Homo sapiens: one gene and its partners. The protein of the gene in region 1 interacts with the protein of each later gene in a biochemical or structural test. Each region holds a gene or a part of one and is shown in the gene's direction. Other genes may lie near its edges. The genes, in order: MAPT, SRPK1, CAPN2, SYK, PRKCG, PKN1 and PRKCZ.

Evidence for each region.
Region 2: the proteins of MAPT (region 1) and SRPK1 form a complex in vitro, tested with the Homo sapiens proteins (one study listed by BioGRID).
Region 3: of the proteins of MAPT (region 1) and CAPN2, one has a biochemical effect on the other in vitro, tested with the Homo sapiens proteins (one study listed by BioGRID).
Region 4: of the proteins of MAPT (region 1) and SYK, one has a biochemical effect on the other in vitro, tested with the Homo sapiens proteins (one study listed by BioGRID).
Region 5: of the proteins of MAPT (region 1) and PRKCG, one has a biochemical effect on the other in vitro, tested with the Homo sapiens proteins (one study listed by BioGRID).
Region 6: of the proteins of MAPT (region 1) and PKN1, one has a biochemical effect on the other in vitro, tested with the Homo sapiens proteins (one study listed by BioGRID).
Region 7: of the proteins of MAPT (region 1) and PRKCZ, one has a biochemical effect on the other in vitro, tested with the Homo sapiens proteins (one study listed by BioGRID).

The regions. Positions count from the first base shown.
Region 1 is NC_000017.11:45,897,554-45,901,053, forward strand, and holds part of MAPT (microtubule-associated protein tau), read left to right. Parts: exon of another isoform or gene 1-1,245; intron 1,246-3,500. UniProt on the Homo sapiens protein: Promotes microtubule assembly and stability, and might be involved in the establishment and maintenance of neuronal polarity.
Region 2 is NC_000006.12:35,869,099-35,872,598, reverse strand, and holds part of SRPK1 (SRSF protein kinase 1), read left to right. Parts: coding exon 1-36; intron 37-1,639; coding exon 1,640-1,665; intron 1,666-2,104; coding exon 2,105-2,318; intron 2,319-2,697; coding exon 2,698-3,117; intron 3,118-3,488; coding exon 3,489-3,500. UniProt on the Homo sapiens protein: Serine/arginine-rich protein-specific kinase which specifically phosphorylates its substrates at serine residues located in regions rich in arginine/serine dipeptides, known as RS domains and is involved in the phosphorylation of SR splicing factors and the regulation of splicing.
Region 3 is NC_000001.11:223,774,029-223,776,518, forward strand, and holds the end of CAPN2 (calpain-2 catalytic subunit), read left to right. Parts: intron 1-239; exon of another isoform or gene 240-805; coding exon 806-829; 3' UTR 830-1,990; downstream 1,991-2,490. UniProt on the Homo sapiens protein: Calcium-regulated non-lysosomal thiol-protease which catalyzes limited proteolysis of substrates involved in cytoskeletal remodeling and signal transduction. Proteolytically cleaves MYOC at 'Arg-226'.
Region 4 is NC_000009.12:90,878,319-90,881,818, forward strand, and holds part of SYK (tyrosine-protein kinase SYK), read left to right. Parts: intron 1-445; coding exon 446-635; intron 636-3,500. UniProt on the Homo sapiens protein: Non-receptor tyrosine kinase which mediates signal transduction downstream of a variety of transmembrane receptors including classical immunoreceptors like the B-cell receptor (BCR).
Region 5 is NC_000019.10:53,902,697-53,906,196, forward strand, and holds part of PRKCG (protein kinase C gamma type), read left to right. Parts: intron 1-376; coding exon 377-457; intron 458-1,938; coding exon 1,939-2,046; intron 2,047-3,500. UniProt on the Homo sapiens protein: Calcium-activated, phospholipid- and diacylglycerol (DAG)-dependent serine/threonine-protein kinase that plays diverse roles in neuronal cells and eye tissues, such as regulation of the neuronal receptors GRIA4/GLUR4 and GRIN1/NMDAR1, modulation of receptors and neuronal functions related to sensitivity to opiates, pain and alcohol, mediation of synaptic function and cell survival after ischemia, and inhibition of gap junction activity after oxidative stress.
Region 6 is NC_000019.10:14,450,306-14,453,805, forward strand, and holds part of PKN1 (serine/threonine-protein kinase N1), read left to right. Parts: intron 1-12; coding exon 13-158; intron 159-590; coding exon 591-804; intron 805-1,523; coding exon 1,524-1,718; intron 1,719-3,500. UniProt on the Homo sapiens protein: PKC-related serine/threonine-protein kinase involved in various processes such as regulation of the intermediate filaments of the actin cytoskeleton, cell migration, tumor cell invasion and transcription regulation.
Region 7 is NC_000001.11:2,144,411-2,147,910, forward strand, and holds part of PRKCZ (protein kinase C zeta type), read left to right. Parts: intron 1-976; exon of another isoform or gene 977-1,101; intron 1,102-1,616; coding exon 1,617-1,698; exon of another isoform or gene 1,699-1,895; intron 1,896-3,500. UniProt on the Homo sapiens protein: Calcium- and diacylglycerol-independent serine/threonine-protein kinase that functions in phosphatidylinositol 3-kinase (PI3K) pathway and mitogen-activated protein (MAP) kinase cascade, and is involved in NF-kappa-B activation, mitogenic signaling, cell proliferation, cell polarity, inflammatory response and maintenance of long-term potentiation (LTP).

The DNA.
Region 1 (3,500 bases):
GCGGATGACGGTGGGGTGCTGAACCAGCCGGTGCGCCTCTGGAAATGTCTGGGCACGGATCCTGGGGCCATCGACGACTCCTCCCCATTCCCAGCAGGCGGGAGCTCTTACATTCCGAGCGAGTGACCCCTCTCACCCTCTGGCGCTCACACACCTGTAACTCCAAACCTCCGTCTCAGAATGGTCCAGGCTGGAAGGGATGATGGGGGCTCCGACAGCGACTGCCTAGCTCACCCCTCTGCGTGCTCAGGCTCCAGGCTCAGCAGGACCAATTTGAGTTCTATCTGATCCCCCTCGGCCCCTTAACTGACCCATCCTACAGGAGACAGGGAAATGTCTTTCCTACCGCGGTTGATTCTGGGGTGTCATTTTGTGTTTTGTGATGGCTGCTTATATTTACTGTATAAGCATTGTATTTACTGTATAAGCATTGTATTATAATTACTGTATAAGCTGCTTATATTTACTGTATAAGCATCTCCAAATCCTCCCTCTACGTAAACAAATTAATGGATAAACAGATAAGTGTATCCCCTGCCCCCACCCCTGCTACGCAGGTCCGGAGTGACTCTTGAAGCTCATACATTCCTTGGCCAAGTTTGCTTCTCTAACAGATGTTTATATAGCAATAACCTGGCTTGGCTCTTGGGTTCACCTTTGGACGATTTGGGGAAGGGGCTTGTTGGCTTTGCTGGGTTTTGGATGAGTGACAGTCCATGACTGTTCCTGCTGGAAGGGCGTGACTTTTAAGTGGTTTCTAATATCAGGCATTGCTCCTCCGACAGGAACAAAAGAAATGGATACTGCCCATAAATTGTTAGAAAACTTAGAATCGCTTTGATTGAGGAAAGGTTAGATTTATTCCGGTTGGAAAAAGTGGCCTTTCTATTAAACGTGCCCTTTGACCCTCATGCCCTTGGAGGTCGGTGCCAGCCTGGAGATGGGATAAGATTGTGGTTTTCCTTCTGCCTTTTTAACATCTGTTGTTACAGTCCATTTGTTGAAAATTTAAAGAAACTGTTTTATTCCACTTTCCCTCAGCATTTATGTGTGTGGTTTCAGTAGCTCTGTGGCTATATGTACGAACACGTGTTATTTTTCCAATTGGACATGTGATAATTTTCCAACTGGACCTTGCCTTCTATTGATGTATTTATTTAGCATCTTCCTTACTCCCTCCTTGAAAAAGAATCACTCAAAAACAAATAAAAACAGCCGTAGGGGCCTAATACAGTGCTAGACATACAAGAGGTATTCGGTCCATACCAAATGGATTTTATCCATGAAGGATAAATGGGGAAATACAGTGGGAAGCAGGTGGGAAACTGCGTTTGACTCTGCTCTTTCCTCCACCACCACTTTCCTCATCACCGTGTTCAGAGACCCCCAAAGCCCCCTCACACTCCCAGAAACACCCCCCTGGCCACTCCTAACTTGCCATGCCCAGGAGTTAGGTGCTTCCACTAGTGACATGGAGCTGGCGTTTGGGGGGCACCTCAGCAGGTGACGGGAAGAGAAGACCCCAGCCTCACCAGCTGGGCTGCAGCAGGGAGAGGAGTCCTCATGTTCCAGCAGGGACTCTCAGCTGTTTTCCTGTAAAACCATGGTTCTCAACTGGGGGCCACTGAGATGTCTAGAGAGATGTTTTTGTTTTCACAACTCGGGGAGGGTGCTACTGACATCTTGTGGGTAGAGGCCAGGAATGCTGTTAAACATCCTACAAGGAAGGCACAGGACAGTCTCCTACATCAAAATATGACCCAGTCCCAATGTCACCACTGCTGGGGTTGACACTGGCACTGCTATCTTAATTACATTCATTGAGTGTCTTTTAGGAGGCCCTATTCTAAGTGCTTGCTAAGATTATCTCATTTAATCCTCACAACACTTCCGCTATGTAGCAGGTGCTGTTATTATCTCCGTGATGGGGAAACTGAAGCACAGAGAGGGTTAGTAACTTGCTAAAGGTCACAGAGCCAGTGGGTGGTGGAGCTGGTTGCCTGACACTAGTTCCCTCCCCTCTCAGCCACATGTGGGTTTACTTGGCCATTGTGGACTAGTCTGGGAACCCAGATATGATCTATAACATTGACCCAGTAGAATATTGATTCCAAAACCACTGTCTCACAAATGAATTTTTACAAGAGTCTGTAATCGGAGCATGACCCAGAATAAGGTTAGGGAGATGTGGAGTTAAAGCTCTCAATTTCTTATCTGGCCCCGACACAGAGAGCAAGGCATTTCACTCTACATTGGTGCTCTGTTTATAAAACAAAGAGCAAATATCTCTTCCTAAGGTCCTTAAACCTCTTCCCCCAATCCAGGGTTTCTGGACTGCTCTGCCATATGACGGGGCAGCTGGTTTGATTGACCCAGGGAAGGCTGGAAATCAAGACTGGGGGATCAAGACGTAGATTCAGTGTGGCCAAGGTCAAGTCTCTGAGGTTTAGGGACATCAGATCCCCAGCTTAGGTTCTGTACCTCGGCAAGGTGAAAGCGTTGGCGCCCACTGATGAGGCCTGCTCTGAGATTGTGGGTGTGGGTTGAGTTGGGTGGGCATAGGCAAGTCCTCTTGTAAGAATCTTTTGGCAAAGATGGGCCTGGGAGGCTTTTCTCACTTCCTGGGGCCCAGGCTTTGCAATAAGTATTCCATTATACTGTGGTACCTTGGGGCTACCTGAGAATCCTCTGTCTCGCCCCTGTTGCCTTGCCAAAGAGTTTGCTGTCCAAGAATTCCTTTCCTGTCTCCAGGTGCCATGCTCCTGCCACCTCTGCCAGGTTCCCTGCCTGCCCAGATGGCTCCCAACTGAGTGTGAGGAGGAATTTGAGACAGGTTTTGAGCTTTCTGGGTTCTCCAGTTAGGAAACTTTCTGTAAGCATGCAGATAGAATGGGCTTCAGCAAAATACAAACTCGAACAACTTCCATGTATAGTCCCTTAATTTTCTTTGCTTTTTTCATATTTCATCAGGCTCCATGCTGAGCCCAATCAGGGACCCGATAGAAATCCAAACACCATGTCAGCGAGTCCCCAAGAAATGCATTTTGTGCCAAGGCTATTCAAGGAAGGTTTGGGAGCAGCTCAAGGGCAGACACTGTTACCCTCCCCCAGGTCCCCAGTGCAGGGCAGTGTTCTGCATGTGGAGGCAGTTTGGCCTAATGGTTAAGGAGGTAGGCTCTGATCGGGCCTCCTGGGCACAAATCCCAGCTCCCTGCTCACTGTGAGACCTAAGCCATATTGTTTAGCTGCTTGGAGAGTTTTTTGTCATCCACAACTTGGAGTATGATGGTACCTGTCTCACGGGTTGCCATGGGGTTCACACAAGCTAACCCGGTACTCACTAGGGCCAAGCACATAGTAACTGCTCAGTAAATGGCATCATCGGCGGTGTCCTGTGGATGAGTGCTTGTGATTGGCTGAATGACCAGAGGGGTCTAAAGATCCTGGTGATGGAATCAGTTGTACAGATAAATTGTTACACTGAGTAGGGATCAAGATAG
Region 2 (3,500 bases), on another chromosome or scaffold:
AGCGATCTGGAGCTCCTCCGCCTTCCGGATCTGCAGGTGTATTTTCTTTTAGGGACTTCGCTATCATTAGAAGTTAAAAAGAAATTTCTATTTTTATTCTGTTACCAGGGAATTAAACACCACTCAATCCATTTCAACAATAACATATTTAAGAAACATTATCAGCTTCCAAGAGACATTCTCACTGTTACTTCCATAGGGGAAGGAGAAAACTAGATATTGTGTCTTTGTGTTGTATGTTATAAAAGCTGGTGTGTATTGTTTAAAAATATTTTTTCTTATGAGTTGATGATTTTTGAAGTGTTTACCTCTAACTGTGATCACACATGCTCATTTATAGGACTGGTAGTCTGTAGAGGGACAAGATAACATTGCTATTAATAGTTTAGGTTTAAACACTGGAGTAGACAGACTTGGTTTGAATTTGGGCTTCATCCTAGACTGAGAAACCTTAGCTGAGTTATTTTACTTTATTTTCCCTCAACTGCGAATTATTGGGATTAAATGGTAAAGCAGTTAGTAGTGTGCCACACAATATTATATACCAAATAAATTGCGGGACCAGGCACAGTGGCTCATGCCTGTAACGCAACACTTTGGGAGGTTGAGGTGGGTGGATGATTTGGGCCCAGAAGTTTGAGACCAGCCTAGGCAACACAGTAAGACCCTGTCTCTACAAAAATTAAAAAAATTAGCCAGGCATAGTGATGCGTGCCTGTAGTCCATTTACTCAGGAGGCTGGGGCAGGATGATTGCTTGAGCCTAGGAAGTCAAGGCTGCCACGAGTTGTGATAGTACCACTGCACTCGAGCATAGGCAACAAAGTGAGACCCTGTCTAAGACATAAAATTAAATAAATAAATAAAGGCTGCTTTATGATTTTTTTTCTTTTGAGATACAGATTTTAGTTTTAGTAGTGTGTCATTTTTTAGGAACTTGCTTGATCCTCAAGTTGAGTTATTAGTTATACACTTCTTTAAAAAGGAAGACTAAAGAAGGGGGAAATGGGGAGTTGGTTGTTAAATGGATGTAGTTTCTGTTTTACAAGATGAAAACATTCTACAGATCCTGTTATACAACAGTGTGAATAGTGTTAAAACCACTGAATGTACACTTATCTAGAGTATAAATTTTTATTATGTGTTTTTTGTTAACCACAGTTATTATACTAATATTTTAAAAAGAGGAAGACTGAAGATCCTACCTTCCAGCTAAGCTACACTGTTATCCATGACATGCTGTAGAGCAAATTACTATAGCTCTTGATGTCACCTAGACTCCCCTTTTAAAACTGACAGATTCTGGGTAGCATTTGAGGTGAAGAGGTTGTTGCTTGTCCCATTCTATTTTAAGCAGTGCATGGGAATGGAAAATAGGTGATTTTTAGCAACTTTAGTTTACCTGGGGAGGAAGAATTTTATTTATCCCTTTTTTTTAAGTTTGGCAATTTCTATTCATTATTTTCTTTAAAAATGGTAATAATATAGCTTCTACTTAAGTCATTTAAAAACAATAGTTTTCTCTGCAATGTAGACTACATAAGAAAGACTTTTCATTCTGGTAGAGTGTTTTATCTGAGCCTTAGTTTATATTGCCTGATGAATGCCAGAATTCTTACTTGGTTTTCTTTTCTTTTCAGTCAGTACTGCTCCCCAGCCTAAACCAGTAAGTATAAGGTGTTTTTATATTTAATTTTGATCTATGGACTATGGGCATGGGTTCTTCTGTTGTGGATGGTAACAGTTTGTTTCAAGTTTGAGAACCAAAAGGAAAAAAAATTCCTGCGCTTCTATAATTTTCTCCAGTAAATTCCCATGCACCTTCATCACATTTGTACTGGTGAGGCCTCTAAAAAATTCGAGTTTGTCTGAATGTAAACCAACCCCACGGACTGCTCAGAAGACCACACTTTGTTATTTATTCTGTTTTTATTTGGGTTTATAAGAGTATCCCGCATCTTTTAATTTAATGAAAGACTTAAGTGCTATGTTAGGGAAAGATTTGTGAAATTTAATTAGGAAGTAATTAAAGTTAACAACTATCTCCAACTGGGGGTAATTAATTAGCCACCTGAAGGCTTTATCTGTTTGTAATCTCCGCCCAGGCTGACAAAATGTCAAAGAATAAGAAGAAGAAATTGAAGAAGAAGCAGAAGCGCCAGGCAGAATTACTAGAGAAGCGAATGCAGGAAATTGAGGAAATGGAGAAAGAGTCGGGCCCTGGGCAAAAAAGACCAAACAAGCAAGAAGAATCAGAGAGTCCTGTTGAAAGACCCTTGAAAGAGAACCCACCTAATAAAATGACCCAAGAAAAACTTGGTATAAATAGAACATCACGAAAATTACTGTACAACACACTTTAACGTTAATTTATCATTGCTATATAATACAGTGGTTTCATACATACAACACATCTCTGGGGGTATCTTTATAAGAATATGGATCTTGTCATAAATGTTAGGCAGGTAATATTTAAATGTAATTTGTAACTTTTCTCAGGAAATGGAACATAGATTTCATTTAACAATTGGGTAAAAGTAAGATCTTGGCCCTTCCGGAAATAGGTTTTAGATGTTTAGTCATGTTTTTATGTCACTCAGTATAAGTTCTAGAAAATGTTTTAATCTTGTGAGAAATGTTTCTGTTCTTTCACTCACACACATATGCATATATCTTTTTTTGTTCGTTTGTTCCTTAGAAGAGTCAAGTACCATTGGCCAGGATCAAACGCTTATGGAACGTGATACAGAGGGTGGTGCAGCAGAAATTAATTGCAATGGAGTGATTGAAGTCATTAATTATACTCAGAACAGTAATAATGAAACATTGAGACATAAAGAGGATCTACATAATGCTAATGACTGTGATGTCCAAAATTTGAATCAGGAATCTAGTTTCCTAAGCTCCCAAAATGGAGACAGCAGCACATCTCAAGAAACAGACTCTTGTACACCTATAACATCTGAGGTGTCAGACACCATGGTGTGCCAGTCTTCCTCAACTGTAGGTCAGTCATTCAGTGAACAACACATTAGCCAACTTCAAGAAAGCATTCGGGCAGAGATACCCTGTGAAGATGAACAAGAGCAAGAACATAACGGACCACTGGACAACAAAGGTACCTATGCAGCTATACTTCCTCAACACTCCTTCCCTGCACAACACATTCACAGATTTCTAGACTAAAAGTATGATTGTTTTTGTAACTATAGCTTTACAACAGGTGTGTCTAAGTTACGTTTAAATTGTAATCTGTAGCTAACTTTATCCATCATGTACTGAGTACACAGCACTTCATTTGTTGCTGTGAGGGCAGAGGTTTTTAATTCTGGAAACTCAAGGCGTTGCTGTGCTCTTTTTGTCTCAGAAAATGTAAGTTGTCACTTGGGTATTGCTGACTGTATTACTCTTACCTTGGAGAGCTTTATTACTCATTGAGTATTTCTCTGTTCATTGAACAGTCTTATTGATGATGCCTGTTGTCTGTAGGAAAATCCACGG
Region 3 (2,490 bases), on another chromosome or scaffold:
TCTCAAAAAATTTAAAATGAAATAAATAGTAGAGTCAACACAACTGTGACACGAAACATGCCACATGTTAAGTTCTGGAAATCCTAGCCTGTCATTCTTGCTGGATATCCTATTCTACCCCAGCCACCCACCCCCACTCCAGGGTCCACCTGGCCTGCCTGCTCAGTCCACTCCCTCCGCATCTCCTCCGAGAAGCATCTTCTTACCCACTGGCTTTTCCTGCCACTCCTAAGCCTTACCTTTTGCAGGTTCCTGGAGATCCTCGCTTCTCGTAGTCTTTGCAAGGATGAGCCATGTTCAGAAGCTCTCCGTTCAGTCTGCAGGGATTTCAACCTTGGCTGCAGATTCCATCACATGGGGAGCTTTGCCAAAGTGCTGGTGTCCTGTCTGTATCCCAGACCAGTTGAATCAATCTGATTTAAAGTTTCCGTATCACTACAACTTAGAACCAATGCTGAACACCATTGGTTGCAGGGATATCCACATCCCAAACTAACTTCTGATGTGATACTCTGAGGCAGAGATGTGAAAATGCTAATTTCTGTTGTGTGAATTTCACTTTTCATGTGTGCAATCAACCCTGTAATATGATTCATGGCCACTTAATGCAAATCACACAGACTACTGACCTGTTAAAAGCTAGACTCTAGAAATCAGGTAAGAAAAATATGAGTTAGTGCACTGATATTGTAGCCCTCAATCAGCTTTTCCAGTACAAGTTTTTTGGAACAATCTACAGGTACTTAAATAGCCTTTAATTTTAAAAGTGGTCACTGAGCTGACTTTTTTTTTTCCTTCCTCACAGTGGCTCTGTTTCTCAGTACTTTGAAGTTATAACTAATCTGCCTGAAGACTTCTCATGATGGAAAATCAGCCAAGGACTAAGCTTCCATAGAAATACACTTTGTATCTGGACCTCAAAATTATGGGAACATTTACTTAAACGGATGATCATAGCTGAAAATAATGATACTGTCAATTTGAGATAGCAGAAGTTTCACACATCAAAGTAAAAGATTTGCATATCATTATACTAAATGCAAATGAGTCGCTTAACCCTTGACAAGGTCAAAGAAAGCTTTAAATCTGTAAATAGTATACACTTTTTACTTTTACACACTTTCCTGTTCATAGCAATATTAAATCAGGAAAAAAAAATGCAGGGAGGTATTTAACAGCTGAGCAAAAACATTGAGTCGCTCTCAAAGGACACGAGGCCCTTGGCAGGGAATATTTAAAGCAACTTCAAGTTTAAAATGCAGCTGTTGATTCTACCAAACAACAGTCCAAGATTACCATTTCCCATGAGCCAACTGGGAAACATGGTATATCATGAAGTAATCTTGTCAAGGCATCTGGAGAGTCCAGGAGAGAAGACTCACCTCTGTCGCTTGGGTTAAACAAGAGACAGGTTTTGTAGAATATTGATTGGTAATAGTAAATCGTTCTCCTTACAATCAAGTTCTTGACCCTATTCGGCCTTATACATCTGGTCTTACAAAGACCAAAGGGATCCTGCGCTTGATCAACTGAACCAGTATGCCAAAACCAGGCATCCAATTTGTAAACCAATTATGATAAAGGACAAAATAAGCTGTTTGCCACCTCAAAACTTTATGAACTTCACCACCACTAGTGTCTGTCCATGGAGTTAGAGGGGACATCACTTAGAAGTTCTTATAGAAAGGACACAAGTTTGTTTCCTGGCTTTACCTTGGGAAAATGCTAGCAACATTATAGAAATTTTGCCTTGTTGCCTTATCTTCTTCCAAATGTACTGTTAAATAAAAATAAAGGGTTACCCCATGCAATCACACCATGCCATGTTTTCCTTCCTGGAGGGCAGCCCCACAGGACGGTTTATGAGCACACAATTATAGCTTGTTTCTACTTTAACAAGGTATGCTGCCTCTGTAAATTCATGTATTCAAAGGAAAAGACACCTTGCCTATAATTAAAATGTGGAACTATAAAATTTTTTAAAATCCAATTCAGAAACTTTGATAATCTGACCATAACATAAGGGAAGCTCTAATTTCTACTGCTTGCTGATCTGCTGTTAGGCAGCACAGAGACGTATGTGCCTCTCAGGAAGTTCCCTGCTCGACCTTGGCCAGCTCCTCCTGGGGTAGGTACAAGCAAGGGAGCTGAGAAAACATGCAGATGAAGTCACTGGTCTGGTGCTTGTGGTTCTTGATGAATCATTTCCTCAAGATGACTTGAGATGATAGGCAAATGCCATCCTAATATTTCCTGAACAAGGTGAGACAATGGATTTCCCAAACTCGGCTCAAATGAGTTGAAGTTCTCTTGCTTGCTGAGTGGATTTTGAGGGCAAAGGGGAGGCTGGTGGCCATGAGAGTGCAGGAGTCCCAACCTCCTCGCATCGGTGATTTCTCTGTCCAGCTGCACAGGTGGCAGGAAAGATGTGGGAGATGTTTGGACTGACTCAAGATTGGAGGTGGGCAAGGGAAGGGTAGCTGAAGGATC
Region 4 (3,500 bases), on another chromosome or scaffold:
GGCCACCGAGGAGCTTGCCTCATTTGCTGTGCTACGTTTGTACTTAGATTGTCTCTTTAGTCTCCATGGAAGGGAGGTGTTCTTACCCTGACTTTGTAGGTGAGAAACTGATTCTCAGGGTTAGTTCTGTGACCTGTGTGATACTGGAACAAGGATTTGAGGTGGTGCCTGGCTATCTGTGAGCCAGGCCTGACTACTCTGTTATACTGCTTTTCTTGCAATTCCAAGCATGCCAGGAAACTCAATCCCATTGAACACCAGGAGAATATGGCATTGAGTCCTGAAGAGCTATATGCTAACAAAGTTATTTGTCACCACTCGTGAGTTTTGTTGTTTAAGAAGAGGGAAGGAGTAGATTCACCCACTGCCTGCGTGAGGAGCATGGTTGTTTGTTGTGAAATGGGTCACTGTCTGTTATAGCTGATGAGATCATTATGACTTTCAGACATGTCAAGGATAAGAACATCATAGAACTGGTTCATCAGGTTTCCATGGGCATGAAGTACTTGGAGGAGAGCAATTTTGTGCACAGAGATCTGGCTGCAAGAAATGTGTTGCTAGTTACCCAACATTACGCCAAGATCAGTGATTTCGGACTTTCCAAAGCACTGCGTGCTGATGAAAACTACTACAAGGTAAGTACAACTTAGCTAATATTCAGAGCAGCAGGTGGTAAAAAATGCAAGATAAATGTACGTTTTCTTTATTTTATTATTGGTATGGTTTCAAAAAGCAGTTTTGCTACTGAAAAATAACTATGTAAGATATGTTCTTATAATCTTTGATTTTACTGTTTAAAAAATAAAAATAATATCACACCTTGAGATTTACTCAAAGTAGTATATTCTAAATTATGTTTCATGGAATGATCAGGAATCGAGGTATTAAGTGAAGATTTGTTTTGAAAAAAGAAGAATGGGATTCCTTCATTAAGTTAATTTGAAAAGTTTGCATTGGACAGCTTGATTCTTGCAGGATTTCCCCGAAGCCCTTTTCATGCTACTTAACATTACGAATCTCAGTAGAGGGTTTACTGCACTGCATTTCTCAAACCAGATTCATCCATGGCATCCTTTTCTGATAGGACATTTCATAACATGTGGTGGAACACTGTCCCACAGCATGGAGCTATTGGAGCTTGGAGCTCCAGTACTGCAGTTCAGAGCTCCAATATTGCAGCTTGGAGCTATTCCAAAATAACTTTCTAATGAACACCTACCTATACATGCAAAAGTTAGAAAGTGAAGATTTACCAAATAAACTCGTCATCTGTGTATGTCCACTACATATGTAGAAATTGTTCTATTGGCTTAACTGGTATCCAGAAGAGTTGAAGTGTCAAAAAATAGATGCAGTGCTGGAAAGAAGAGATCTAGATAGTTATGTGACTGAAGCTAAAAGAAATATGCCCCTTGGTTTGGTGAGGCAGAGATTATCAAGAATTAAGGGTGGACTTCCAGCAAAACATAAAGTAGAAACTAGTTCTGGGTGCAGGTTTGGACTTCCTAAAAAATAATTTCACAGTGACCAATCCCCTTGCTAATATAACTTGACCCCTCTCTGAACCCTCAAATGAACCAATAACAACTAAAAGAAGAAAAGATAAGAAAGCTCTATCTTCATATTAACTCATCTGTGGTGTATACCTAGGGTCTATGTTAACCAACTGGAAAACGTGATGGCACCAATCCCACTGAGTCAAAGAGGGTGCCGAAGGCAGGTTAACAACCCTGCTAGTCTCTGGTGAAGTCCACATGCTCAGAAATAGATGGCAGACCTTCAAAATCTACCTAGTGGGTGGCAGATAGGATCCTGTGTTTCATGCCCTGCAGTGGTCAGAGACCCCACCCTGAGTGACAATACCCACCCACTCACCTTTCCCTAAGAGGCAGTCCATGGACTGGTAGGTGATGGGGAATGGTGGACCTCGGCCAGCAAAGGGACTGCATGAAGGGTAAGCCACAAGAGCCAAGCTCCCAGGCAGGCAGGCAGACTCCACCATCTTGAGCACAAAGGCCAGGCGAGAGTACAGCAGGGGTCAGGCTGGCCCTCCTCACCCCATTCTTCATACAGTAGCTTCCCAGAAGGAAGCCCCTTCAGAGGTGAACCACTGTGAGAAAGGCATCAGCATGGGCCTGGATAGAAATAGCAGGGAAACAGAGCAAGGAAGACAGCAGCCTAGGATGACCAGCATGGGACATGCTGGAGAAAGAAGCCTGTTGTAATGCTGGATGTACCTCATCATGATCATTACAGAAAAGAAGACAGCCTGTCTGAAACAAGGACACAGAGGAGATAGAGAAAATGAAACATGAATGCTGGGCACCTTATCCACTGCTGTATAACAAATCACCCCAAACTTACTGCCAAAAACACCACCAGGTGTTGGTTTCCCTGCCGTCCTGCTGTGTGGGCAGGGCCAGGTAGGCAGGGTTCAGTGCGTCTGCTCACACAGGGGATTGCACAGTGGCCCGAGGGACAGGAGGACCGTTTCCACTCTGCTCACTCACACTACTCAGCCACTGAGCAGCTGGTTAGACACAGCCCATGCTGGAGACCTCTGCGGGGCTGTCAGCCAGCTCACCTGCACATGGCCTCTCCTTGGGGCCCTTGGGCTTCCCTTGGGCCCATGCTTCCCTTGGGCAGCATGGCAGCTGCGGGCTGAGAGCAGTTACCCAAGAGGCAGGAAGTGGGGGCTGCCAGGCCTATAAAACCAGGCCCAGAAACTACCTCAGGGTCACTTCCACCTGATCCTATTGGTCAGAGCAGCCAAGGCCACCAGCTTCAAAGGATGGGATAGATAGAACCACCCTTTTGAGGAGAAGTGTCAAAGAGTCAAAGAACATGGGGCCAATTCTAAAACTGCTGTAGATATTAAACAGCATACCATTAAAAAGTAAACTAAACTAAAAAGTAAACCAAAGATTGTCTTTGGACAATCAATGAAGAAAAAAAGCCACTAGGGAAATAAAAGCCATCTTGGAAGCAGCAAAAAGAGACAAAACTACCGAAAAGATAGGGTAGTGGAAGATTTCTGTATGAAAACAAAGCAAAGTGAAATGGAAAAGAATAAAAAGTGGGCCGGGCGTGGTGGCTCACGCCTGTAATCCCAGCACTTTGGGAGGCTGAGGTGGGTGGATTACCTGAGGTCAGGAGTTCGAGACCAGCCTGGCCAACATGGTGAAATCCCGTCTCTACTAAAAACACAAAAATTAGCCAGGCATGGTGGCAGGCACCTGTAATCCCAGCTACTCTGGTGGCTGAGGCAGGAGAATTGCTTGAGCCCGGGAGGTGGAGGTTGCAGTGAGCTGAGATCGTGCCACTGCACTCTAGCCTGGCCAACAGAGCAAGACTCTGTCTCAAAAAAAAAAAGGAATAAAAAGTGAAACAAGATCAAAGAAAAGTGCTAGCTGTGGAAGCAAACGAACGCTGGCACTCGGGAAACCATGCGTGACAGGGTAGATTTGTGCAGCATCACAACTGAAAAACACAGGTGTTCT
Region 5 (3,500 bases), on another chromosome or scaffold:
CCAGCCTGGGCAACATAGTGAGGACCTATCTTCACTAAAAGTGCAAAAATTAGCCAGGTGTGGTGGTGCACACCTGTAGCCCACCTACTTGGGAGGCTGAGGTAGAAGAATTACCTGAGCCTGGGAAGTTGAGGCTGAGTGAGCCGTGATCACACTACTGTGCTCCAGCCTGGGCAACAGAGTGAGACCCTGTCAAAAAAAAAAAAAAAAAAAAAAAAAACGAAACAAAAAATCACCTGATGAAATAAATATTCAGAGTGGGAAGAGCTTGTGCTGAAAGCACTTAACGTGGGTAGCGCTCCCAGGGGGTGAGGCCAGAGGGGTCCTAGGCTTCCTAAAGAACGCATCATGATTCCCTGCCTTCCACCTCCCCTAGATCATTGCCTACCAGCCCTATGGGAAGTCTGTCGATTGGTGGTCCTTTGGAGTTCTGCTGTATGAGATGTTGGCAGGACAGGTAAGGGAAGGTGGGGAGAAGCTGGCTTGGCTAAAAGAGACAGAGAGGGGCACCTGGATCTCAGGAGGAGCCAGTTAGAAAGGAGCCCAGAAGGTTGTGCTCGAATAGCGCTGTCCATGGTTCTGAAGTGTTGTCTTAATGTAGACCAGGTGTTTTGTTTTGTTTTGTTTTGTTTGTTCTGTTACCATGGATTCTTTCTCCCTAGATGGTAAAGTAGCAGTCTGGTTAAGCCTATGGATCCCTTCTCAGAAGAATGTTTTTCAATGCACAAAATAGAATAATACATACGCAGAAAACCAAGGTTCAAATCCTCACTTTGCCACTTACTGGCTGTGTCAGCTTAGACAATTACATACATTCTAAATCAGCTTGATTGGATTCCTGGACTGCTGAGTGTACTACAACTAAAAAAATTGGTTACCACACTCTTGATCATCTTCTTAGCTGGCTATGGTAGTGGGCACCTATAGTCCCAGCTACTGGGGAGGCTGAGGCAGGAGGGTCACATGAGCCCAAGAACTCAAGGTTACACTGAACTATGAGTATGCCACTGTGTTCCAGCACAGGCGACAGAGCAAGACCCCATCTCAAAAGAACAAACAAACAAAAGAAATCAATCATTTTGAAAGATAGTCACCAAAACTTTTAAAATTTAATTGAATCTAACAACCAACTAAATTCAATGTATACAGTTGTCTAAATATTTAAAATTGGAAAATGGACATATGTGCAATTTCTTATTAATTCATTAAGTAGTAAGTTCTAATGGTAGTAAAGTAAAAAGGAGCTCTAACAGTAATTTTGATGTAGCAATGACTAATAATTTGGAATATCTGCAACTCTCATGTGATGAGAAAATACCTGTGATTACTATTGATAATGAAGCCACAAGCACTGCTGCTGCCTGCATTCATAACTGAAGGGAATGCTAAATTTTAGTTAGAAGTTAAAAAAAAATTTGGCCGGACATGGTGGCTCACGCCTGTAATCCAAGCACTTTGGGAGGCCGAAGTGGGCAGATCACTTGAGGTCAGGAGTTTGAGACCAGCCTGGCCAATATGATGAAACCCCATCTCTAAATCTTTGCCTTGGTATCATTTTTTGTAACCTCAGAAGACTGTGAACTACTCATCCAACCAGGAGAATGCTTTTAGGGTGTTTCCTGCAGTTTTTCCTCTCTTCTATTTAACTGACATGTTGCATAATTAACAGCCTGCTGATTTACATAGCAGATAAAGAGAGGCAGAATAGTACAGAGATGCACAGATCTGAGGCATCCGAGATAGGAAATGAGAGAACCTGAGAAGGAGAGAGATCAAGCTTTGGTGGTTTGGTCTGATCTCTCCTGAGGGTGTGGTCAGGTGTGCATGTGGGGCGTGTGATGGGTCAGGCATGTTCCCGGTGGGGTGAGGAGGGTGTGGAAGGTTTGGGGAAAGGCAGTTGGGCATGTCCCTGACTCTCTATCCCCTCCACTTTGATAGCCTCCCTTCGATGGGGAGGACGAGGAGGAGCTGTTTCAGGCCATCATGGAACAAACTGTCACCTACCCCAAGTCGCTTTCCCGGGAAGCCGTGGCCATCTGCAAGGGGGTGAGAGCCCCCTGACTCCCAGCTTCTCCAGGCTCACAACCACACACCCCATTGCTGTCTCTGTGCCTATTAGAAAAATGCTCCCATTCCTGAAGTCACTTTACTTCCATCTGTTGGAAAAGTTGATATGATGCATAGGTTTTGTTAGAACAATGATTTCCAGCCCTGTTGCCACGAGGCCTGGAGATGGCCTCTGTCTCATCCTTCTCTGTGACTCCCACTCCCCAGCTCCCTGCTTGCAGGAAGTGCTGAAAGTCCAGGGTGTCTGTCTGTCTAGAACTGGGTGGGTCAGGTAAACCCAACTTCTGCAGCTTTTCTTCCTGTGTGAACTTGGGTGAGTCACCAAAACTTTGTGAGCTTAACTCTCTTCAGGGGTTATGGAGTTGACACAGAAGAAAGCACCTGGCCCATAGCAGATTTTCAGCCCATGTCAGCACCTTCTGCGTCTAGCTGCTCTCTCTGCATCTCCCTGACAGTCTCTCTGGTTTCTGTCTCATGCCTCCCCTCCATCTGCATACGATGGGGCTCTCTGTGTTTCTTCCTTTTCTCTGTGTCTCCTTCTGCATCTCTGTCTACACTTTTGGGCCTTTGTCCAACCCCCCTACCCCCCATCTCTGTCCCCTCCTGTGTCCACTCTCATACACACACGCTACATCTCACCCTCCTCTCCTGCTGGCTTTCTGTCCTCCCTTTTCTCTGGGTCTCTGTCCCCATATTTGGTCTTTATTCCTCCCTCTGGGTGTGTGTTTCCTGGGTCTCTATCCTTCTCTCTTTCTGAATCTCTGTCCCCCTGGGTCTCCTCTGTCTCCTCCCTTCTCTGAGTTTCTGCCTTCTTACCTGGGGTCTCTGTACCACCCTCTGAATTTCTATTTCCCCTTTTCTCTGGGTCTGCAACCTCTCTTCCCCCATTCCCTCCCTCTTCCCCTTCATCTCCTCTACCCTTCCCTCCCTCCCCCTACCGACCTCCCTCTGTCCTTCACTCTCCCCTTCCCTCCCTCCCCCTACCCTTCCCTCTCCCCGTCCCTCTCTCCCCTTCCCTCTCTCCCCCTACCCCTTTTCCCTCTCCTCTTCTCCATCTCCCTCATGATTTGTTCTGTTTCTCTGTGTGTCCCTGGGTCTCTGGGTATGAATTTCATCTGCTATCATTTTCATGTATCCTCTCCTTCTTCCTGTCTCTCTCTCTCTCTCTCTCACTCACTCTCACCCTCTGTCTCTCTCTCTCTCTGTCCCTCTTCCTCTCTCTCTCCTCTCTGTCTCTCTCTGTCTCGCTCTCTGTCTGTCTCCCTCCTCCTCCTCCTCCCTCCTCCTCCTCCTCCTCCTCCTCCTCCTCCTCCTCCTCCTCCTTCTTCTTCTTCTTCTTCTTCTTCTTCTTCTTCTTTTCTTCTCTCTCTCTCTCCTTTCTTTTCCCTTCCTCCCTCCATTTGCCTGTTTCCCCTGGCTGTTCTTATCTCTCC
Region 6 (3,500 bases), on another chromosome or scaffold:
CCACGCTCACAGGGAGTCCTGACCTGGGGGCTGTGGAGCTGCGCATCGAAGAGCTGCGGCACCACTTCCGAGTGGAGCACGCGGTGGCCGAGGGTGCCAAGAACGTACTGCGCCTGCTCAGCGCTGCCAAGGCCCCGGACCGCAAGGCAGTCAGCGAGGTGAGGGGCGGAGCTTTCATTAGAGGCGGGGCTTCAGCAAGGGGCGGTGCTTCAGCAAGCGGCGGGGAGTTCACCAGGAACACCCACGGTGAGGGGTGGAGCCTCAAAGGGGGTGGGACCTTCATAAGGGGTGGGGCCTCAGCCAGGGTAGACTACTGTGAGGGGCAGGGCATCAGGCAGGAACAGTGCAACTGTGAGGGGCGGGGCCTCAGCGAGGGGGCATGGTTTCAGGCAGGAATGGCCCTCGGTGAGGGGAGGGGCCTCTCCAAGGGGCGGGGCCTGGTTTTCCCAGAGGTGGGACCAAGTTGGTTTGAGGTTTAGCCCTCTAGGGAGGAGCTCAGTGTGAGACTCAGCCTGGGGGTGGGGCCTAGGCCTGCACTTGGGAAGGGGCAAGCCTGGTCCCGCCCCCAGCCCCCACACTTCCCACCACAGGCCCAGGAGAAATTAACAGAATCCAACCAGAAGCTGGGGCTGCTGCGGGAGGCTCTGGAGCGGAGACTTGGGGAGCTGCCCGCCGACCACCCCAAGGGGCGGCTGCTGCGAGAAGAGCTCGCTGCGGCCTCCTCCGCTGCCTTCAGCACCCGCCTGGCCGGGCCCTTTCCCGCCACGCACTACAGCACCCTGTGCAAGCCCGCGCCGCTCACAGGTGGGTCTGAGACCCTACCCCACCCCTGCAGCCCTGGGCCTCCGACTCCTCTCATTTCCCCATTCCTGTGACCCCCGACTTCAATCTCCGCTCTCCCCAACCCTGGACTCCCATTCCACCACTGTCTCCTCCCCTCCTTTGCCCTCTGATTCTGGGCTCTTGCCCACCCCCCCCACACCTCAGTTTCTCCATCTCTCTTCACCTGGCCCAGTATTTTTCTCCCAGCCCTTGTTCCCCAGCCCCACCTCGGCCTCACAACGCTCAGCCATGAGCCTCCTACCCGCCTGCTGCAGACCAGCCAGCCCCACCTTCCACAGACCCCTCAGCCATCTACCCCTCCAGACCAGCCCCACCGTAGACCCCTAGCCCATCTTAGACCTCAGATTGTCCACCGAGTCCTCCCCTAGAACCCCTAGTCCTACCCTGTTCCTGCTTGCCTGGGCCTACGGCCTGTACCCTGAGCCTACGGCCTGTACCCTGAGCCTCTCTTCTGCCCCTAAACTCCCGCATCTGAGCCCCTCCTGGAAGGACTGCTTCTCTCATATTCTCCTATCCCAGCACGGACATCCCGGCCTCATGCCCCATGCTCCATTCTGGTTGTCCCTCACTGGCTCCCACTTGTACCATGGCTGCGTCTGGATGTGTCCCCTCCCCGCTGTGGTCCCCTCCGCTCAGCCTGCCCCAGAAGTGGCCCCCTGCTGAGCTTTCCCCTCCTGCAGGGACCCTGGAGGTACGAGTGGTGGGCTGCAGAGACCTCCCAGAGACCATCCCGTGGAACCCTACCCCCTCAATGGGGGGACCTGGGACCCCAGACAGCCGCCCCCCCTTCCTGAGCCGCCCAGCCCGGGGCCTTTACAGCCGAAGCGGAAGCCTCAGTGGCCGGAGCAGCCTCAAAGCAGAAGCCGAGAACACCAGTGAGTGGGCATCGTGGGCCCTGAGAAACGAGGTGGCATTGGGGACCTGGAATGCCCCATATTTGTAAACCTTTAAAAAATAAGCCAGGGGTCGGGTGTGGTGGCTCACACATGTAATCCCAGCACTTTGGGAAGCCAAGGTGGACGGATCACTTGAGGTCAGGAATTTGAGACCAGCCTGGCCAACATGGTGAAACACTGTCTCTACTTAAAAATACAACTTAGCTGGGCATGGTGGTGCACACCTGTAATCCCAGCTGTTTGGGAGGCTTAGGCAGGAGAATTACTTGAACCCGGGAGGTGGAAATTGCAGTGAGCCATGATCACGCCATTGCCCTCCAGCCTGGGTGACAGAGTGAGACTTTGCCTCAAAAGAGAACGAAAACAACAACAAAAACAAAAAAACAGGCCAGGTGCAGCAGCTCATGCCTGTAATCCCAGCACTTTGGGAGGCTGAGACAGGAGGATCACTTGAGGCCAGGAGTTTGAGACCAGCCTGGGCAACATAGCAAGACCCTGTCTCTACAAAAAATAAAATGTAAAAATTAGCCAGATGTGGTGGCCCACACCTGTAGTCCTAGCTGTTCTAGAGGTGGGAGGATCACTTGAGCCCAGTGAGCTATCATTGAGCCATTTCACTCTAGCCTAGATGACAGAGAGACCCTGTCTCTAAATTAAAAAAAAAGAAAAAAAACTTCAAGTTTATTTAGATTAAAAAAAAGGCTGGGCGTGGTGGCTCACGCCTGTAATCCCAGCACTTGGGGAGGCCGAGGCGGGTGGATCACGAGGTCAGGAGTTCAAGACCAGCCTGGCCAGCATGGTGAAACCCCATCTCTACAAAAAATACAAAAAAATTAGCCAGGCGTGGCGGCGCGTGCCTGTAATCCCAGCTACTCGGGAGGCTGAGGCAGAGAATTGCTTGAACCCAGGAGGCGGAGGTTGCAGTGAGCCGCGATTGTGCCACCGTACTCCAGCCTGTGCAACAGAGCAAGACTCCATCTCAAAATAATAATAATAATAATAAATAAATAAAACAAATTTAAAAAGAAAGGAAAACCAAACAAGAAACCAATATATCATATTCATTAGGATGACTAATACTATTTTAAAAACCCAACAAAACAAACAGAAAATAAGTGTTGGTGAGGATGTGGAGAGAAATCAGAACCTTTGTGCACTGTTGGTGGGAATGTAAAATGGTGCAGCCCTATGGAAAATATATTGGCATGGCCGGGTGCAGTGGCTCACACCTGTAATCCCAGCACTTTGGGAGGCTGAGGGGGCCAGATCACCTGAGGTCAGGAGTTCGAGACCAGCCTGGCTATCATGGCAAAACCCCGTCTCTACTAAAAATACAAAAATTAGCTGGGCATGGTGGTGTGTGTCTGTAATCCCAGCTACTCAGAAGGCTGAGGCAGGAGAATCGCTTGAACCCAGGAGGCAGAAGTTGCAGTGAGCTTAGATCGAGCCACTGCACTCCAGCCTGGGCAACAGAGCGAGACTCTGTCTGAAAGAAAGAGAGAGAGAGGGAGGGAGGGAGGGAGGAAGGAATATTGGCAGTTCCTGAAACAAGTAAAAACAGAGTAAGCAGTCCAGGCGCAATGGCTCACACCTGTAATTCCACCACTTTGGGAGGTCAAGGTAGGTGGATCACCTGAGGTCAGAAGTTCAAGACCAGCCTGGCCATCATGGTGAAACCCCATTTCTACTAAAAATACAAAAGTTAACCGGGCTTGGTGGTGGTGCACGCCTGTAGTCCCAGCTACTCTGGAGGCTGAGGCA
Region 7 (3,500 bases), on another chromosome or scaffold:
CAAGCAGACCTTGGTGACCCTGGGTTCTTCAAGAGGGGCCGTGGTGCCGTCCTAGCTCTGGGCTGCAGCGTGAGACTCAGGCGGCAGTCTTGGATAGGACCCATCTTCCTGAGCCCCCACAAGCCCCCGGCACACTCTGCTCATTGGGGCATGAGGCTCAGGCAGCAGGCTCAGGTAGGACGTGGTACGCTCTGCTCAGTGGGTCGGAGGTAAGGTTCATTCATACCCCAGTCTTGAACCAGCTCTTAAGGACTGTGGAGGTGAAAGCCAGGTCTGACCTAGTAGCATTGGGCACGCTGAGGCTCCGAACATCTGGAGCCTCTCCCTGGCATCCCCCCTGGGAAGCCATGCCCAGCCTGTGATGAGGGCGGCACCTTCCCTCCGCCATCCCCGAGTGCTTGGACTTGAAGCATCCAGGCCTTTGGGGGCCTTATTGACTTTTGCTTATTGAAGGCTGCCTCTGGCATTTCCGTGTGGCCCCCTGCATCCCACTGAACCACGGGGGTGAGGCCTGGACTGAACATTCAACTCCCTGGGCCCTGCTGCAGCGTGCAGTGGGTGTGTCTGGGGAGGGTGGCTTGTCTGCATCTTGCTGTGGCATGGGAGGAAAGGCGCCTGTGGCAGTGACGTGCCCTCTCCTCTGTTACGGGATAAAGACAGAGTCTGGATCAGGGTGTCACCCCAGGATCACCAGCCACAGGGATGGGGGACCACGCAGGCTGGTGCATGCGTTGGCACAGTCCTTCCAGAGGTCCTTCAGCTGCATCTGCCAAAAAGCCTGTAATGCCCTTTGACCTCATAGGTCCACTTTAGCGTAAGCAAATGAGACCGGCCCCAGAAATGTGGTCAGCTAGAGGCGGAGGGAGGCCAGAGCCTGCCACCCAGCTGACCACCAGTACTGGTGGCTCCATTATGACATATCTGCAGGCGGAACCCAGAGGCCCTTAGAATGGCCCCCTGATGCTTGGTTACTGACAGGATGCAGCTTTGGGACAGGGGAGATGACCAAGCATTGTGCAAAATATCCCGTTGTATAAAGCACTTGGTGGAAAGGTCATGGCCTGCAGTACCGAGTGGCCACCTCCGTCTGCAGAATCATAGGTAATGTTTATGTTCTTTATCTAATTCAGTAAAATAGCATAACAATTAGATTTTTATATACTATATTACAGTATACCCATTGTAATGTGTAAATATGTAAATCATAAATAGTCTTGAAGTGGCCAGGTGCAGAGGCTCACACCTGTAATCCCAACACTTTGGGAGGCCAAGGTGGGAAGATCACTTGAGGCCAGGAGTTCAAGACCAGCCTGAGCAATATGGTGAGACCCCATCTCTACAAAAAAAATACAAAAATTAGCCAGGCATGGTGGTGCGCACCTGTAGTGCCCGCTGCTCTGGAAGCTGAGGCGGGAGGATTGCTCGAGCTCAGGAGGTTGAAGCTGCAGTGAGCCGTGATCGCGCCACTGCTCTCCAGCCTGGATGATGACAGACTGTGACCCTGTCTGTAAAAAAAAGTTCTTAATTTTAAAAAGTCACAAAGTGTTTACAGAAGCTACATTGTAACACCTGCTCTAGCACTTGGTCATGCTGCCATCTCTGTGTCTCTCCGGCAGGATTCTGTCATGCCTTCCCAAGAGCCTCCAGTAGACGACAAGAACGAGGACGCCGACCTTCCTTCCGAGGAGACAGATGGAAGTAGGCGCTGCTTTCTTCCGGCCGGGTAGAGCCTGGGCATCACCTCACCCTGCTCACCTCTGCCTTCTAGCCACGAGTCCTTTCTCAGTCCCATCTGCTCTGCAGGGGTCATTGTCTTCAAGCCTGGCCACCCTTCCCTGGGGCTGGGGATGAGGCTCTCCAGGGCCTCCTCTCAATCCCCGGCAGAGATGAGCAGGGTGAGCTGGCCCTCCCTGGAGGCTGCTGGGCAGGGATGCCTCCGTGAAGTGCTGTTGTGGTTGCCCAGGGGTGCAGAGCCTCTTCCTCTAACCAGCTCCGGGAGTTCTCGAAGGCACTTAGTGCAGCAGCCACCATGGCCGGGCACCTCCCACAATCTGGCTGCTGCACAGAGCTGAGCCCTATCTGGGGAAAGCCTGGCGAGGTGGCTGCTGCACACACAGCGTGGCAGTGGCATGGTCCTTGGATTTTTGTGAGGTTTTGTTTGTTGTGGGGAAGGACTTGTTTTATTGCTAAGAAGCATTCAGAGAGAGATCTCAAACACCAGTTGGACTTACAGCCCAGGTTTGAGCCTCCACACCTGCACCTCTGCACGGGGGTGTGAGAGCCTCACTTTCACTTGATGCATGTGAGTTCTGTCTCATTGGGAGACCACAGAACATAAAGCACTTATGAGACCACAGAACATAAAGCACTTAGTTCACACAGTGCCTCACGCAAAAGAGATGCCTCACAAACAACTGCCTGCCCACCTGCTCCTCCACCCACCTATCCTCTATACAGATATTCATCCGTACATCATCCATTCACCCACCTAGCCAACCAACCAGCCCTCATCCAGCCAACCAGCCATCCTCCACCCGCCCATTCTCCATCCATCCACCACCTATCCATCTATCCACGATCCATCCATCTCGTCATCCAGCCAGCCAGCCAGCCATCCTCCACCCACCCATCCTCCAGCTATCTTCCATTCGTTCATCTGTTGTCCACTGACCTCTCCATCTATCCATGTATCTATTGTCCACTGACCTCTCCATCTATCCATCTATTGTCCACTGACCTCTCCGTCTATCCGTCTATTGTCCACTGACCTCTCCATCCAACCGTCTATTGTCCACTGACCTCTCCATCTATCCATCCATCTTTTGTCCACTGACGTCTCCATCTATCCATCTGTCTGTTGTCCACTGACCTCTCCACCCATCTATCTGTTGTCCACTGACCTCTCCATCTTTCCATCTGTTGTCCACTGACCTCTCCATCTATCCATCTATTGTCCACTGACCTCTCTATCTATCCATCTATTGTTCACTGACCTCTCCTTCCATCTATCTGTTGTCCACTGACCTCTCCATCTATCCATCTATCTTGTCCACTGACGTCTCCATCTATCCACACATCTGTTGTCCACTGACGTCTCCATCTGTTCATCTATCTGTTGTCCACTGACCTCTCCACCCATCTGTCTGTTGTCCACTGACCTCTCCATCTTTCCGTCTATTGTCCACTGACCTTTCCATCTATCCAGCTATTGTCCACTGACCTCTCCATCTATCCATCCATCTATTGTCCACTGACGTCTCCATCTGTCCATCTATCTGTTGTCCACTGACCTGTCCACCCATCTGTCTGTTGTCCACTGACCTCTCCATCTATCCATCCACTGTCCACTGACCTCTCCATCTATCCATCCATTGTCCACTGACCTCTCCATCTATCCATCCATCTATTGTCCACTGACGTCTCCATCTGTCCATCTATCTGTTGTCCACTGACCTGTCCACCCATCTGTCTGTAGTCCACTGACCTCTCCATCTTTCCGT